3 linked regions of the Homo sapiens genome follow. The protein of the gene in region 2 purifies or fractionates together with the protein of the main gene of each other region. This does not show direct contact. Each region holds a gene or a part of one and is shown on either strand. Other genes may lie near its edges.

Region 1 (7,123 bases), on a different chromosome or scaffold from region 2:
GGAAGGTGCAGTGAGTTGAGATTGTGCCACTGCACTCCAGCCTGAGCGAAAGAGTGAAACTCGGTCTCAAAAAAAACCCAACAAAACAAAACAAAACATAATAATGCCTATCTAACCTGCTACATGCTATTAAGCTTCTCTTCTCCCATTCCCACCCAGAGGGATCCCTAGGGGCCTAATGTTTTCACTATGTGCCAGACAAGAGTTCTCCCAGGACCATGCATGGACCTGCATCAATTTCATGCCCTAAGGCCCAGCTTATTTGGTTCAGTATTAGGATAGAATTTCCTCACTGCATTCATCACCTGGGGTCTAGCAGCTAAGGCTGGAAAAATGCATGCAGCTGTCACTGATATTGGCCAGTGAGAAGAAAGCCTGAATATGTAGAGCTTTCTACCCCTATAACCATTCCTGGCTACCTCCTTTCCCTACTTCCCTTACCCACCTTCCACCCCCCAGCATGCAAACACAGGTACCGAAACACCTGTGCACATATCCATTCACTCACACGTACACACACATACACACAAACTCTTCATTCTGAAAATAATTTTATTATTTTACAGTTGTTCAGGAAACTTCCCAGGATGTTGTAACCAAGATTTAATCACCACAGTAGATTTAGAGCAGATCAGTCAGCCCACTTGTCTTCTCTCTTCTTTAGGGAGAGGCTAGGCAGTGAACACATCACGTATGCAATGAGAAAATAACCAACTGGTAGGATGGGGGAGGGGAGGGGAGGCAGGGAATAGGCACAAATGGAATTCTATCCTGGCTGTCCTTCTCAGGTCTATCTATATTTAATTTTGTCTTCTCTATATTCTCCTTCCATTGCCACAGAGGGCAGAGACAATGGGGCTGAGAAACTGTAATAACTGTCACTAACAGCAAAGTAGCTTAGTACTTCAAGAGGTCAGGAGTTGCAGTGTGGTGTTAGACCAGTCAGACTCCTGGCTGAGAGTCAATGCCTAATATTGGCTCCCAGTGGCCCCTGAGCACTGTCTCAGGGTCCACATTCCAGGAATATTCAGATATTCCTGGAATGACAAGAATTGGAACCCTGCTGTCCATAGACACTTCTCCCTGCCCTTTGGTGAAAGGAAAGACTTGGGCCACTTAATACCTTAGTATACATGTGATCAAGGGCAAAAGCAAAGGGATTCTATCCTTATAGTCTAAGACCTGAAATTCTCCCTCCAATTATATCTGAAATTGGCAGGGAAGAAGATGCTGTCCTCCCATGTGATCTAACAGCTAAAACCCCTAGGGAGTTCCTTCAGCTTTCACCACCCTATTCTGCAAGAGACCTAAATCAGATGTCCTATGAGGTGACATGTTCATTTCCCTGAACTCTGTTTATGGCAGAGCCACCTTCCCCCTGAAACAGGAGAAAATACAGGCAAACAAGGCAAAGAAAGTTATCAATCAAAATGATACTGAACTTCAGATTATTAGGTTTATTGAAACCATCCTCTTGGCTTGGCTGAAAGACATTCCTCAGTATCTTTTACAGGACCACAAAAGATCAGGGTCCTGCAAAATCTCAACAAATATTAGGCTCAACAAACCAAATGTGATTCTCAGATTAAGCAGAAGCGTTCAGGCTCAGGGCAGTAGAAGAAAGCAGACTCGCCAGTCCCTGCAGCTCCAACCTGTCCTCGTATCCACCTCTGTTTTTGCAGGCACTTTCCGTGAAGAGTTGGAGAGAAGACCTGTAAATGGGAAGACTGTTCCACTGGAATTGATGTTCTGATGTTAGAGGTGAGAGAATTCCAAGTTTTGAGGGGAGTGGTCCAAAGAGTAACAACTAAGTCTATAGATGGCCCGTAAAACACAGAATGAGCAGGACATGAATCATTAGAAAGTAGATGGCTGCTAGAAGTGGCACTCGGGTCCGTGAATGACAGAGTGAACGCAGGACTCGCTTCCATCCAACGCCACTCCGGGTCTGAAAGAAAAATGTGAAAGTCAGAGAGTTTTCACCCTATAGGGCTATGTTGCTTTCCCTCCTACTAGTCTTGCACTTAAGCAAAGCTGACCCAACCACTGTAGAAAGGGGTATTCTGAGAGGAAAGTTGCCTCAGAGTCAACAACTTGGCAAATTCCACCAGGTTCTAATCTTCCACGCCCTTCCAGCCTTAGACTCATTCGCTGCTCAGTGGCTGGACTTCCACATTCCTTCTCCTCAGCTCCTTGCCCCCAGTATAGCCAGCCCTGTCAGATAATAAAACACCCTCTCTTTATCCTTCTTCCTCTTACCCTTCGACAACTGTTGCTTGTAAGATCTATTAACAGTGCCTGCTCCTGAGTGCCACAGGAGCCAATGATAGGAGTCCGGGAAGAGTCCCATTCACTGTGCTCTAACCTGAGTTGAGAAAAAAAAGAGGCATAGCATTGGTTCATAGCATGAGAGGCTGATCAGGCCCAGTCTTCCCAGTCATCCTGCCACACAATGCAGCACAGGAGGAGACTTGCAGCAAAAGCTGCTCCCATAAACCCAAACCCATGCAAGGGGGGTACCAGCAGATACGTTTCCTTCAGCAGCAGCAAAATGTGACAATAACTATCAGGAATTGACTGCCTACTCACTATGTATCAGGCTCTAGGCTGGGTGCTTTACATACATTTAATCCTCAGGTTCTGAGGTTGGTCTTATTATCTTCAAAGTGCTAAGGCTTACAGAGGTTAAATTACTTGCCCATGGCGGCACAGCCAGTAAGCGGCAGAGCCAGAATTCAATACCCAACTTTGTCTTTCAAGCCTCACGTTCTTTTTTCCACCACACCACACCTGACTTGGAGAAACTCATTACATTTTTTTCTTTTATTAAAGGCTAATAGGCAAAAGCATCCAAAGAAGATTTCTGTGGGGTTTTAAAAATTAAATTGAACTAAAAAAAATTAAATTGAATTGGCAGTCTCCACTGCCTTCTGGCTCAGTTTTTGCTGATTTGCTTATTTAATACTGGAACTTCTCCATTTAATGAAGAAGCTGCCATTACTCACTCAATGGTTATGTCAAACAAACAAAGGAGCTGCATGTAACACAGCACGTTTGATCAAGCATTTGCCTATAGGGATGAACTTTTTCAATAGGGAAGAGAGGATGAAACTCTTGCCTCTACTCTTTGTGTTTTCTCCTTCTGAAAGGATATCTATTAGTTTAATATTCTTGGGCTCTCTGCAGGACACATTCTTTTCCCCGGGAGAGAAGAAACACCTTAATCCAATTTGTGAGTCTAGAAAGAGAACTGAGCATGCACAGCCTAGCTCCTTCTTTCCTGCTTCCCTCCTGAGAGCCAGGCTGACTAAAAAATACACCTTCTGTGTCTATTCCTCCATGTGATAAGCTTTTCAGAAGCAGCTTTGATCTGGAACAGCATGGTCTGTTACTATGGAGGTCAGTCTGTCAATGTAGGCTATGCTGAGGAAGGATGAGAAGTCTGTAGGTATTGATGAGGAAGATGGTACTGGCTGCCTTTAAACTGGAGGGCCACTGAGTTCCACCTGCTCTTTAGAGTACATGTGAGATTCTAACATTACAATGGCAGTACCTGGACTAGGCAGGCAGCCCTTAATTAGCTACCCCAACTTCCATTCTGCATCAGAGCTAAAGAGGGAATTGTGGCTTGAATTAATACGGCTTGCCCACAGGCTCAAGAGTCATCATCCCACACATGCAGTCTCAGTTGGTTTGGGACAGGTTAGTTACACAAGAGGGAGATCAACCTCCCCATTGGCCAGGTTTCACCGGTCTAAACAATTCAATAGCAAGTAGAAGAGAAACAGTCATGAGGGCACAGGCCTGAAAATGCTCGGCAGAGATGGCAAGACACCACACAAGGCATTAAGCAAAGCTGGCCCACCCTCAAAGCTGCATATCAAGGCCTGAATAGGTGATGAAAATTAAGAAGTTGTGAATATGTTGGATTGGAAAGAAAGGTATCTCAAGTAAGACCTGCTCAATGGGGCTGTCACCTCTGCCACATAAACTTTACAAGAAAGCATTAATATCAGAAATGTCATTCTCTGAGGAAAGTGATCATATACATAGGTGGCTTTCTCCCAAAATATAATAAAAGTGCCTGCTTTTAACGATATTTTCCGTGGAAAGGGACTTCCAGCAGCAAAATACTTGTAGCAACTCTCTATCCTCTCATGCATAGTGATTCTTTTGATGAGAATAAGGAACTAGGGATGTGTAGCTCTGCCCTTCCAAATTACACTTGGAGCAAACTGCTCATAGGAAGCACAGTTCACTCTGTTATTCCAATACTCTTGTTTGGCAAGAGCAGGATTTTCTGTGAAGGAGGTCTACCTTGGCCCAACATTGTCTGTGACTGGGAGGGGAAGTTCAGGGTTAGGAAGTGCATTTGCCAACAAATAAAAAGCTACATTCTTTTAACATCATTTATAAAGCAGTCTTTTAATCTCTCAATCTTTTAATCTTTTAAAAAAGATTTCCATGGATTCAGATCTCAGGTAGAAAATGAGGTTGTCACTTATTTGGTCCTCTAGAGAACCCAACACCTACCTCATATAGTTATGGTTAGGGTGAAATAAAATATCTTTCAGTAATGGTAGATATCATTATTATTCTCTAAGAACAACTGTTTTAGAAAACACTGACTCTCTTATACTCCAAAAGTACAGTGTTCTCTTGGGTGACCACAATGTTGGTAAACTCATTGCAGCAACTACCTCAAGATGAGAAAAAGATCTTAAGAAATCCTAAGTCTGGCAGGAAATGTACATGAGTTTGATCAGAAAGGATCGGAAGGGAACAGAGGCTATCTCCTTCAGCCTTTACCGTCTGATCTGCTCCTCGGCCACAGAGAGAGCATTCTCAGCAGCCACTCTTTGGTCTCGTTCTTCTTCCAGCAGCTTCCTTAATTCATTCACTTCCTGTCTGGTGTTGCATAGCTGCTGCTGAGCTTCAGAAAAGCTTTAGGATGAGAGGAAAACAAAAAGCATCATCAGATGCAGAAAACAGTTGCTAATACAAGGGATTCAAAGTCTTCATAAGGTTGTAAAGCAAGAAAATCCATAGAAGCTTGTCTAAACACAATATTTTAAAAGCAAAGCTGTAGAGGGATTAAATGAAGCTGCAGAAAATACCTAAAGAAATTTCAGGAACTGATTATCTTTCATTTTACTATCATAGAGTAGTTGTTAGTGGTGTGTGTGTGTTGGTGTTGCTCTTTTTGTTTTACAAACTTTTCACACACAAATGTTAGTTATTATTGTTACTATTTGATCCTCACATCACTTCTGTGAGGCTAATAAGATAACAAGACATATTAAATCCATATAAAGGACTCCAGTTAAATCTAGATTACTGCCCAATTTCTGGACTCTGGTGTATGCTCCAGGGTTTAGAGAGCCACTCCCCTACCTTTGCTGCGGTTCCCTTAGTTCCTCAGGGTCACTCTTTCTGTGAACTCCATTCTTTTCCTGGGGAGCTCCTGGAGCAACATCTATATTTAGTGGCCCCTGGAAGAAGAATAAGCTTAGTAATTCAGTGATGAAAGCTCTTAAGAAAGTGTATTTGAGCAAAATGAGAGCTCGTTTACAGAGGACTATCCCCGCTTATAATTCTCAAGTCCAAATTTAGAAGTGAGAAGCTTCTGCTCTAGCAGATTACTCACCTACATAAAACTCTTGTCTTGATTAGATTTTTCTCCCAGATTCTCATTCTTGAATTTCTCCTCTTAAAAGTTAAGTCTGGGCCGGGCGCCGTGGCTCAAGCCTGTAATCCCAGCACTTTGGGAGGCCGAGGTGGGTGGATCACAAGATCAGGAGTTCAAGACCAGCCTGGCCAAGATGGTGAAACCCTGTCTCCACTAAAAATACAAAAAATTAGCCGGGTGTGGTGGCAGGCGCCTGTAATCCCAGCAACTCGGGAGGCTGAGGCAGAGAATTGCTTGAACCCAGGAGGTGGAGGTTGCAGTGAGCCGAGATCGTGCTACTGCATTCCAGCCTGGGCGACAGAGCGAGACTCCGTCTCAAAAAAAAAAAAAAAAAAAAAAAAGTTAAGTCTGCTGTGGATGCTTATGGCTTTTCCAGAAGCCACTTTGATCCTTCCCTTGCTTGTCCAGCCCCTCCCAACCCCCTTTTCCTCCTCCGTATCCTATACGTCTCCATACTAATTCTCAGTCTCCTCCAACTTCAATGCTGTACTCCTCTCCCTGGCTGTCAACAGTGCTGCCTGTTTTGTTCTCAGATCCAAAGTTTCCTACAATTTTCTTATAACTTAAAGCAAAATCAACACTTTCTCTGTTTCAGAGTACCAAATGTCTCAGTCATCACTGTTTCCTACTCATGTTTTGATTTCTCTCCCACCATCTCACTGATCTTTTTTCTTCTAATTGCTTCACTGTAATTTTTCTCAGACCTTATTCCCATCTCAATTAACTCTTTCTTCTCTCCCACTTTCTTCCCTGACCCCTAATTACATTAACTTCTTCCATACTGCTCTGTAGTGCTTCACCACTTGCACTAAATTTCATCACACTTCTCCCAGTCTCTCACCTTCTCTTTACTCACCGCCTGCAGCTCTTGAACCTGCTTCTCCAAGACTGCACAGTGATTTAAAAGGTCACCATAGTGCTGCTGGTTCTCACGAAGACTCTGACTGGTATCGCAGAGCTGAATGGAAAGGGTGTTTTTCTCTTCCAGTAGCTGAGAGAACTGAAACAGAGGCGAGGATAAGCATCATCCTGCAGTACTGTAAGCAGTGCTGAGGTGAAATGTTCTGAGTTTTCAGGATCTAATTTTCCTATGGAAGACCTTTGTTTCAGCAACAGCAACAATAGCACTTTGTGTGCCTTCAAAGTTGGAAAAAGCATAATTTTTTTTTGACCAAGACAGAAAACAATTCTGGAGGAGTAGCAGAAAGGTTTTTTTGTTTTGTTCTGTTTTGTTTTTTTAAATGGTGCCCAGTACATTAACTGAAAAACCATGAAGCAGAAGTCCATAAGCAATCTAATTACATAGGCTATTCTGGGTACATAAGAGGGAGAAGGCAGTACCTCAGGGTCAAAGTTCATGGTACTAACAAATGACTATAATCTCCAGAACTCAATATGGCTGGAGAGAGCTGTCACCCCAAAATCTGTGCAATA
Region 2 (7,442 bases):
CATAGTGAAACCCCGTCTCTACTAAAAATACAAAAATTAGCTGGGTGTGGTGGCACATGCCTGTAATCCAGCTACTCGGGAAGCTGAGGCGGGAGAATCACTTGAACTCGGGAGATGAAGGTTGCTGTGGGCCAAGGTCGCGCCACTGCACTCCAGCCTGGGTAACAGAGTGACAGAGGGAGACTCTGTCTCAAAAAAAAAAAAAAAAAAAAAAAAAAAGGAACAGTCCCTTTAAGAGTGACTAAAGATGTAAAGAATAAAGCTAAACCAAGCCAGCTACATAACTATAGAGGTATAAATGTAAAATTAACATTCATTGATTATTTACTATGTGTCAGGGATGATCTATGAGCATTTTTTAATAGACTACTTTACACTGAATATGAGCATTTATTAACTCATGCTTTTTCAAATCAACTCTATGATGTAGTTACAATTATTATCTCTATTTTACAAGTGAGAAGATCACATAAGTTTTAAGTAGGCAGAGTCAAGATTTGAACCCAGGCTAAGGTTAAGAGCTGGTGCTCTTAACTATAAGAGGACAGTAGTTAAAATAGATATCTTCCCTAATATGTGTGTAAATACTGAAGATTTTTTTATTAATACAAATTGTTTTCTTATCTAGACTATTTCACTAGCCCTCTAGTTAGTTTCCTTGACTCTAATTTTGCTCTCCTTAAATCCATTTTCCACACTGCATCCAGTGATCTGCTTAAATCTTAAATGGACTTGTACAAAATTAAGGAAAACCTACTCAGCACGGCAAACAAGGCTATGATTCATGCTTAATGACCCCAGCCTTCTGGCCTCTCCGATGTCCTTTTCTGCTACTCCCACCCTAGACTTTATATGTCTTAAAGTCTAATACAAACTCAGTACTTGTAGTGTCCACTACACACTAACCATCCCCACTTACACTATGTATTTTAAGAACTATGGATCTTTTTGTTCGCTTTTCTGAAATGCCCCTTGTTCCTGGCATTTTCGTCTCAATTAAGCATCTTTCTGGATTAAATTTTATTTTCTCCAGGAATCCTCTTCTGAAACCCTTAGAAGTGACCCTCCTCTACTGGTACTTAGCCATCCTTTATTGAAATTACCTGTTTATGAGCCAGTAACCTTTATTAAGCTCTTTGAGAAGAGGGATTCTTTCTTTCTCTTTTACCTACATCCCGCACAACCCAGCTCCCCCTCCGTCTCCCCCACCTCCATGCACAATTCCTGGCACGTGTTAACTGTTCAGTAAATGTTGAACTTTTGAACTTTACTGGAAATCAAGAAACACTGAGTTTTAGCCTCAGTTTTGCTCACTATGTGATTTTAGATATTTTATTCTCTGTGCTTATCGTGTGTATCTATATACAACTTAATCCTAAAGTTCCATCGTATAAAAAATTCTACAACTTTTTATTTTGCTCTGTATGTGACAGTACCTGGTATTTAAAAACAATTCTCTACATCAACTTAAAAAATTAACATTTGATGATTATAATTAACTTCTAAAAAACTGAAAGATGAAACACATCAATGCCTTTTCTTTCCCCCCTGTACTGCTACCTGAAAACATCGGAATTTGCTGTGGAACGAACAAGATTTCTTCTAAGAAATTACCCCCTACCACCATGACTACATAAAATAAGGTAATTCCCAGCAAGAATATTATGCAGATACTAAAAAGAAAACATGCTAGGCATGGTGGCTCACGCCTGTAATCCCAGCACTTTGGGAGGCCGAGGCGGGTGGATCGCCTGAGGTCGGGAGTTCGAGACCAGCCTGGCCAACATGGTGAAACCCCGTCTCTACTAAAAATACAAAAATTAGCTGGGCATGGTGGCGCACGTCTGTAATCTCAGCTACTCGGAAGGCTGAGGCAGGAGAATCGCTTGAACCCGGGAGGCGGAGGTTGCAATGAGCCGAGATAGCGCCACTGCACTCCAACTCTAGCTTGAGCAACAAAGCGAGACTCCGTCTCAAAAAAAAAAAAAAAAAACAATGACACGAGGGAAATGCTTACAATGCTCAATGAAAAAATGAAAAGAAAGGTTATAAAGTTTTAATATACGATTTGATCTTTTGAAAATAATGGATATATAACTTAAACGGAAATGTATCATTAAATATAGCAACAGCGTCTTCCAAAAAATTTCAAAATCGGGCTTAATGCCAATTACACGATCATAATCCAAAAACCCTTAACTGAAGCAAAGACAGTGATTTGTAACATCTGAACTGTGTGAAAGGGGTGGGGGTGATTCAAACAAGTGTCATCACCTTGTCCAATGATGAAGGAGAACGTGTATCAGTTCTGCATTGTGAAATTCTCAGTATGAGAGCGTGTAGTGGCTAAGAAAAGCAGTGGGCGAATTAGGAAACAAAGAGAAAAGCCAGCGACATCACCAGTTCTGGCCTCCTTCCCACCGGAGGAAAGGGGAGAAGGCGGGTAGTCATCAATTCCAGGTCCAGCCTAAGTTCTGGGTCCCCGGCCCCAGCGAGAGCCTCGCCTCGCCTCGCGCGCCTGCGCGGAGCGGGCTGGCTTCCTGAACGGCCCTCGCCTCTTCACCACCAGGGCCGTCCACCAGAAGTTTCTAAACGGGTGAGAGGCGACAACGCAGTGCAGCTGGGTTAAAGGAAGGAGGCTGGTTTATCCTCCGCACTTACTTGGTACTCGATCTCCAGCGAGGCCTTCAGGGGCATGGGCTGGTAGAAGCACTCCTTCTGGCCGGCGGGAAGGGTAAAGGTGAAGTCGCTATCGAGGGAAGGTGTGAAGCCGGCCGCCCCAGGCAGCAGCACCGGAGGCAGAGCGGCCAGAAGGAGCACGGGGAAGGGCAGCCAGATCTTGTCGCCCATCCCTGCTGGGGCGATCCCGGGCTGAAAGAGGCGTCAGGTACTGTTGTCTCCGCTCCGCGTTTCCTCTCTGGACTCCTCGTGGTTGACAGGGAAATCTGGAGTCTGAAGAAACTCCAGGTGGCGGCCGCGGCGGCGGCGAACACTCCCTCCGAAAGAGAAGCGCAGTTCTCCAAAGGGTAGGGACTCTGGGCGGGGCTAGCAGTCCTATTCCGCAACCGCCTCAGTCTCGGCCCCCTCAGGCCAGGCGTGAGCGCCGCCCGCCTCTCCCCCTGACGGCCTCCGGTTCCCATGGCTTCCCCCACCAATGGGCATCATGGCGGTAATTGTGGGAAATGTAGTCCCGGGCGGGCTCCGCTAGTGGGCTCGGGCGCGCTCGCCGACCACGATCCCCGGCAAGCCCCGCGCCTTCGGCGGCGCCTCACGCAGTCTGCGCCGGGGCGGGGCAGTGACCGGGTAGGCGCGTCCCAACGGCTCCCGCGGCGGTTCGAATTCTGTGCTGCCGGGGTTCGCTGGTTCTCCGAGTTGTGTCCGAGGCTTCCACGCGCAGGGGCCCGGGAAAGGGTCAGAGGCTTCCTAACGCAGACTCGAGTGCGAAGCGCGCAGTCGCCGGGTGGGTCTCTCCCCAGCGACGATTTGGGTGGTGAGCGACTGCGCCTTGGCGTGGGGAAACCGGCTTACCTGGGGGAGTTCTGTTCCTTTCCCTCCCGGCACCTTGGATGCGCTGGGACTGGTCCTCGTGGTTGCTGAGCATGCTGCTCTGAACGGTTGTATTTTATTTGATGAAAAATAGGAGGCCGGGCGCAGTGGCTTACGCCTGTTACCTCAGCACTTTGGGATGTCGAGGCGGAAGGATTGCTTGAGCCCAGGAGTTCGAGGCCAGCCTTGGCAATATGGCGAGCCACTGTCTCTATAAAATTAAAAAAAAAAAAAAAAAGAGGAAACTGTCACTTCCGTCCCCCACCCCCGCCCCCGCTTCTTTCAGACGGATGTAAGATTAGCTGTGTCAAGCGATCTTGAGACAGGAGACTACTACATAAAGTTATGACTTCTTTCCAAAATGAGGAATCTTTTTCGACTACAGCCCATTGTATCACATACATAGGGTATAAAAGAACACTTGTCCTTCGTTTGATGGGTGTGCGTGTGCAAACCTACAAACACATTGTTAATTAGGGCCGAAAGATGATGTTGTTAAGGTCGGTGAGTAGGATGATGTGCTTTTCTAGGTATGCATAGTCAGTGAAGATAGCCTTTTTTGGGTAACTACTGTAAATTGAAGTTAAGGACATTCATTTGACAGTAAATGTCCCACTAGGAAAATGAAAACATTTTAGTATCAAATATATTCATTGCTACTGCAGAAGAGTTAGGGAGTTCTTTCTTTTTTTTTTGAGACCGAGTCTCACTCTGTCGCCCAGGCTGGAGTGCAGTGGCGCGATCTCGGCTCACTGCAACCTCCGCCTCCCAGGTTCAAGCAATTCTCTGCCTCAGCCTCCCGAGTAGCTGAGATTACAGGCGCTCGCCACCACCCCCGGCTAATTTTTTTGTATTTTTAGTAGATACGGGGTTTCACCATCTTGGCCAGGTTGGTCTTTAACTTTTGACCTCGTGATCCACCCGCCTTGACCTCCCAAAGTGCTGGGATTACCGGCGTGAGCCACCGCGCCCGGACTGGGAGTTATTTCTTGCATGGCAATACACAGATGTTGAACTAAAACCTGATTTAAGATGAAATATATAGTACCAAATGGTATTATAGAATTTGCCCAATTTTCTCTACCCTTTTCTCCTTCACCATCCTACAGAGAGCTAGAGATGTTGAATAGGTAAAGCAGGATGGGGACCTGATTTATTGACTTGTCTGCGAGAGTCTTGTCACTTAAGCAGAAGCAAATTTGTGGAAACAAAAAAGGGAAAGAGGATAGAACCAGTTTGTCTATTAAGATTACATAGTATCTCATTTAATTTCCTGCCACTTTCTTTCCATAAGGTGGGAGTTTTCTTTTTAATCTTCCTCCCTACATCTGAGAATTTTTGAGTGGGGAATAAATGTAACATACCATTCTAACTGGATGAGGGAAGGAAGGACAGTTTAGTATTCGTTAATTCATTCAAAATATTGAGCTTCTCTAAGTACATTGCGGTCCTGAACGTAATGCACAGGACTTTTAACCTTTTGGAACTTGGGATGGGATCAGAATGCTAAGAAGGGCGTTGAAGGAGATGCTACAGTGAAAAAGGTAAATGGGATCTGAAAGAGGAATGTAATTTTAAGATTGCGCAGAAAGCTCTGTAGTAGTGGAGATTATAAAGCTTTAGTTTTTTATTGTATTAATTACAATAATAAAATGTGATGCTTTATTGTGATTTTTATATGCAAAGAAATTTAGTAGTTTCACAACCCTAGAGATACTCATCCACTGAAGAAACAAAAGCTTTTCTTCATTTCTATGAGTTGACCTGCCAAATGTTATTTTGATCCCTGTGGTTGTGACTTGTAAATGTGTCTTTTTAAAATTTTATAACTATTGGGCGTAGGAGGAGGAGACAGCTTTTATCTGGTAATAAATTCCCTTCTAACAAAATATGAATGTAATGATACCATTTAATCAGATGTCCAGTACTTGTAATGTAATTATGAAAGTTCAAACACCTCATATTGAAATTGATATGTAATATGTAATAAAGCTACAATGCGACATAATTTAATGGTCTTTGCATCCTAATGACTTGGATTCAAATCTTGATTTCACCATTTACAGTTTGTGTGACTTTGAGCAAGTTATTTAATGTCTGATTCTTAGTTTCCTTAACATGTAATGAAAATAATTAACAATTGTTAGGAAGATCAGGTATGCTTACAAAAGAGAACTATAATAACTAGACCCTGGCTAAAATGAAAAATTCATTCATTGAAATTGTATTGAATTCCTTTATGGCTTTACACTACAGATAAATTCATTATTATTGATTTTTTGTTTTGTTTTAAACCACCATGAAAGATTTCACAACATTTAAAATAGAAAACTAATGAGTTAAATTCTATTCATGTGAGTATTTTGACTGAAACTACAGAATCTTTCAGACAAGGTACAAGAAATTCATTTTTTTTTTAAGAAATGGAATCTAGTTCATCAGACTACTATAATAAAGACAATGAAGAGGAAAGTTTGCTTGCAAATGTTGCTTCCTTAAGACATGAACTGAAGATAACAGAATGGAGTTTGCAGAGTTTAGGGGAAGAGTTATCCAGGTAAGTAAGTAAAATCACATATAGAATTCACTGTGCCTTAAATACATCAATGTAAAATGTGTGGATTTCATTATGATGTATTGTTTCTAACCTGCCTCTGGAATAAGAAATAATTTTCTTATACTTTTTAATGTAACTTTCAGTTTAGGGAAAAATAAGGAATATTAGAGAAGCCTCTTTGCATATTAAAAACACTTTCAGTGTATTAGAACTCAGTATAAAATATATATTTTGGGCTTTACTAATTTTTTATGATTTTTTTGAATCTTAAGTAATCTTAGCGTAGAGGCTTTAGAAATACAGTTTGCTAGTTTAAAAGTAATTATGATTTATTTAAAATTTAGTGGAAACATTGCCTTATGTTCATAACTGTGAATCTGCTTAGCAGCATTTCAGGTTTTCTATTTTCTTATTTAATGTATAGCAATTTGTAGTGAATAAACTATCCAAGAACTGAAATATGTTTTTTCTTTTTTCTCTAGTGTTAGTCCAAGTGAAAATTCTGATTATGCCCCTAATCCTTCAAGGTCTGAAAAGCTAATTTTGGATGTTCAGCCTAGCCACCCTGGACTTTTGAATTATTCACCTTATGAAAACGTCTGTAAAATATCTGGTAGCAGCACTGATTTTCAAAAAAAGCCAAGAGATAAGGTTATTGTTTTTAGACCTATCTAGTTAAAAGAAGTTTTGGTTTTAGGCCTGTCTACTTAAAAAAAATTTTTTTTAATTTTAAAATTAAATTAAAGAAAAAAATTTTTTCTTTAAATACCTTATTCATGGTTTCCATAATCTTTTACTATGGTACTCAAGAATTTAAATATAATTGTTCTTTTTATGTTCTAACAAGAAAGTAGTTATCTTGGTGTATTACTCTACTTTTAAACTTACATATTTATTACCTTTTTGCAGTTAAATGTCTTCTTAAGTAAATTATAATCCCCTTGATTTTAACACTACATCTTATACATAATAGGTAATCAATTGTTTATTAAGTAGTTAAGGTATACCCACCATTTAAAGCCTGGATCAAGTACTTTGGATAGTATGGCACTGTTCTCTTTTCATTATCTATTTTGTCAATGATGTTAGAGATCTTTGCTTGGTCTGAAACTCTCTTCCTTTTTCTTATTCTATCACATATTTATCTCCCTGCATTTATCCCTCTTCCTCACTCAACTCTTTTATCTCCTTTTACACTCTCTTCCTATTCTTTGTTCCCCCGACTCCCTACATGTATATACACAGATATGGTTGCACATAATCTTTTTGGATATGTATTTGCTCTTTCCACTTCGGAAAGCCAACCATTAAGAGCTTTCCTTTTTGTAACGAATCTGCT
Region 3 (3,875 bases), about 110 Mb from region 2:
TGCCTGCACCAAGTGTGATCTTATATACATAACAAGGGTTTTGTAGCTGGTAATGAAAAGGACAGAAAATAAATTCACTAACAGTCTACTACTTGCCAGCAGTTATTCCCACATTTTTCTCACTAAGTGCTCATAGATAGATAGTCCATGAGGTGGGTATTACTTTTCTTTCTGCAGATGAAGGAATGGGAGTGAAGACAGTAACATGTCTAAGGTCATGTAGTTACTAAGCAGTCCAGCTGGGATTCACACTCCAAACGTGTGAAAAATATGTCAAACTCCAAAGCTCATGCTCTTTACACATACCACATGGTGATAAATCTATTCCAGGCATAATCAACTAAAGAGAGGCAGAACAATGTTAAAAAAAAATAGTTGTTATGGCAATATTAATATTTGTTTAGTGTTTCCTAATTATTAACTTGATTTGCAACACTAGCCTAGCTATTATCAAGGCAGAGCTATTCTGAATGAAGAGTAAAATAAACAAAGAAAATCAGTAAAATAAAAAAGCATAGACCACGAAGCAATTCTAATGCTGAAAAGATTTATTAAAGGCATTCTCTTTATAACATTTCTTGTCAGTGCACATAATTCCAATAGCAAATATTTTTTCACCATTCATTCAAATACAGTATCACAATGTGTTTAGTATAAATATGTATACAAAATTTTATAAAGACACTAAAAAGTTTCTGACCAATTAAGTCATGAGTTTACAAAGCACAAACTGAAGATTAAATACTGAATATTAAGATGAAAACTACTATACAGGTACTTTAGGAAGTTCTTCAAAGAAGTGCACCTCCCGGGAAATCCTCATATGTACATCTACACTCCAGCAAACTGCACAGGCAAAGTGCTACTTGCCAGATTATTGACTAATAAAAACACATATAGAGCTTCAGAAAGAATACAAGGTCAAATGCCAAAAATAAAAAAAGAAATGAAAGCAAATGTGCTACATTGTACCATTTTAAAGAGCTTGAAAACACCACACAAGGTTCACTAATACTGTTCTGACTGCAATGACTGTATTTACTTACAATCTCTTCCTAACAAGGAAACTATCAGATTTATTCATGGTACGAATGGCCAATTTCAACTAGTTATGCCAAATGTACAAGTAGTATCTGTAAATTCGAAAAGGGCAAATGAAAGGATCAGGTTATTTAAATGAATTCTTCTTTTTTTTTCTTCTTTTTTTTTAAATGAATTATTCTTTAGGAACTGCTCAATATCACCCAAGCATAGTTACAAAGTATCTCTTCAAATTATACATACTCTTGAGGTCAAAAACGTCAAACTATTTCCGTAATGTAAGATCCCACAAGTAGAATATTATCTTTATTACTTGATCATAAATAAAGGTTTTTTTTTAAAGCTGTGGAAAATAAGGGTCTTTAATCTTCATCAAATCATATACAAATTATTTCATTATACCTTTAACAAAACAAGCATTATCAAGAGAAGGTCCAGCCTCTGATCTCCTAATCTCATCCAACAGTTTAGTATAATTCTGGCAACATTTTATTAGTTTTAAATAATATTCATACAGCCCCCATTATGAAACACAGATAACAGGGTAAACTACTGTGCCAGCAAGCCATATTATTAATATATAATTATACTATATTTAGGTAGCTACTTATAATTTGGAAAGAAACAGGAAGCTACACCCTTGAACATACTATTCAAAATGGCAACCAGTTAACCCTTTGAGAAAAGAATTTTTGATTAACAATGCAAGTTAAGTTGTCTTAGTTAAACTTGTACAGGCCATTTCACCATAAACATCCCAGCTGTCTGAGGAGAGAGAAGGCATAGGCACAAAGGTAACTGATTGTTCAGGTTTCCACTCATGAGAAAATAACCCTTTATAAACGACTAATGAACCAACTACAGACAGTATACCAATGTTAAACACTTTAAAGATAAAAATATATTTTATTTATTTATTTATTTATTTATTTATTTATTTATTTATTTATTTTGACTAAGTCTCGTTCTGTTGCTCAGACTGGAGTAAAGTGGCATGATCTTGGCTCACTGCAACCTCTGCCTCTCAGGTTCAAGCGATCCTCCTGCCTCAGCCCCCCTAGTAGCTGGGATTACAGGCACGCGCCACCATGCCCAGCAAATTTTTGTATTTTTAGTAGAGACGGGGTTTCGCCATGTTGGCCAGGCCGGTCTCAAACTCCTGACCTTGTGATCTGCCCGCCTCCCAAAGTGCTGGGATTACAGGCGTGAGCCACTGTGTCTGGCCTTTGATAAATAGATATTTTAAAGATAAAAAGACATGGACTTTTTTGAAATATCTGTGCTGATTTCTCTTAAACTCTCCTGCATAAAGAAAATTACCGAGCAAGTGTTCTTTTTCTTTCATGGGTGGTCATAAAAGTGCCTACACATCAGTATTCACACCCACTGAATCCTACTGGGTGTGCATTCCTCTGAGCTCACTGCTGGGGATGAGCCATGGAGCTCATAGACACGCTTTGGTACACCTTTATTCTTACTGCCGTCAATCCCGCTTGATTTAGATTGTTGGTGTTCTTCTTTGGTATTTTGATTATAAGTTTCCCAGGGTTTCAACAAATCAGGGCTTTCTTCAGATTCAAAACAAAAGAGGAGAGACTTAGCTAGAGATTCTAGTTCCTGGTGGACAATGTGAGTTACTCTACTCTCATAGCTGCCAACAGAAGTAGAAGGCACACTGAAGTCACTGTAAAAATCACTGGCCAAGTTGCGAATACTTTCAACACAAGTCTGGAGAAGATTTATATCACTATGGCATCCTATATGCAAGAGAGGAGGGAAAAGTTAATTAGCCTTTTCAGTTTTCATCAGGTATTTATGACTTTTATAGACTCTAGATATCTTTTAAGTCAAAGTGACCCTATCAAAACAATTCCAAACTACTTAAGATTAGTCAACTAAAGTGTTTATTTGCTAGATGAGCACTTGGTTTTTCAGGATCTAATTATTTAGGTAGAAGTACTGATACATACATTAAGTGGGAATTTAATTATAAATACAAGTTCCTATATGGGTAACTAATATCAGTGAAGTAGCATTGGGTAGGCTTCAGTTAATGACTAAAATAATGAAAAGGTTAGAAATAAAAAGGAAAGATGTCAGCCGGGGACTGTGGCTCATGCCTGTAATCCCAGCACTTTGGGAGGCCAAGGTGGGTGAATTGTTTGAGGTCAGGAGTTCGAGACCAGCCTGGCCAACATGGTGAAACCCCATCTCTACTAAAAATACAAAAATTATCCAGGCATGGTGGCATATGCCTGTAATCCCAGCTACTTGGGAGGCTGAGGCAGGAGAATCGCTTGAACCCAGGAGTCGGAGGTTGCAGTGAGCTGAAATCGAGCCACTGCACTCCAGCCTGAGTGACAGAGCGAGACTCCATCTCAAAAAAAAAAAGGAAAGATGTCTAAGGTTCCTTAAAATATAAAATTCTGATTATAAACTCCATTTGGAGAATCATACCTTTCAGTGCAGAAATAATAATTTCAATAGCTTTCTCTAAGCAATGTTTTAACTTTAAGAATTCTGGAGCACGATTAACCATCCTCTTGAAATCTTGGTATTCAAAGTTTTCTTCTTGTACTTGCCTTCTGAAACTTTTCTGTATAAATAAAGTTAATATTTAAAATAATACATTAACAGGCTCAATGGCAGTAAGGCTCAGTCAATATGATTTTAATTGCCAGAATCTTCTCTTTAAGAAAGAGAGTTTAATTTCCTCACCAGTGCTTAACTCTATTTCTATAAGCAAGACCAAAATACAATAGTAATTACTGTTTTCAAAAGAAATCAGAATTTTCAATTAATTTTCAAAGTCTGTCATCCTATTACATGAGAAT

Evidence for each region.
Region 1: the proteins of TMED5 (region 2) and GOLGB1 purify together in Homo sapiens (co-immunoprecipitation; 2 studies listed by BioGRID and IntAct, with this or other methods). This does not show direct contact.
Region 3: the proteins of TMED5 (region 2) and KIF14 purify together in Homo sapiens (co-immunoprecipitation; 2 studies listed by BioGRID and IntAct, with this or other methods). This does not show direct contact.

What each region holds. Positions count from the first base shown.
Region 1 is NC_000003.12:121,662,667-121,669,789, forward strand, and holds the end of GOLGB1 (golgin subfamily B member 1), read right to left. Parts: intron 6,690-7,123; coding exon 6,546-6,689; coding exon of another isoform or gene 6,531-6,545; intron 5,493-6,530; coding exon 5,395-5,492; intron 4,945-5,394; coding exon 4,810-4,944; intron 2,366-4,809; coding exon 2,260-2,365; intron 1,949-2,259; coding exon 1,814-1,948; 3' UTR 535-1,813; downstream 1-534. UniProt on the Homo sapiens protein: May participate in forming intercisternal cross-bridges of the Golgi complex.
Region 2 is NC_000001.11:93,177,393-93,184,834, forward strand, and holds the start of TMED5 (transmembrane emp24 domain-containing protein 5 isoform 1 precursor), read right to left. Parts: upstream 3,022-7,442; 5' UTR 2,851-3,021; coding exon 2,662-2,850; intron 2,597-2,661; exon of another isoform or gene 2,521-2,596; intron 1-2,520. Other genes in the region: CCDC18 (coiled-coil domain-containing protein 18), read left to right, coding at 5,970-6,103, 6,586-6,754. UniProt on the Homo sapiens protein: Potential role in vesicular protein trafficking, mainly in the early secretory pathway. Required for the maintenance of the Golgi apparatus; involved in protein exchange between Golgi stacks during assembly.
Region 3 is NC_000001.11:200,550,970-200,554,844, forward strand, and holds the end of KIF14 (kinesin-like protein KIF14), read right to left. Parts: intron 3,638-3,875; coding exon 3,499-3,637; intron 2,799-3,498; coding exon 2,419-2,798; 3' UTR 531-2,418; downstream 1-530. UniProt on the Homo sapiens protein: Microtubule motor protein that binds to microtubules with high affinity through each tubulin heterodimer and has an ATPase activity. Plays a role in many processes like cell division, cytokinesis and also in cell proliferation and apoptosis.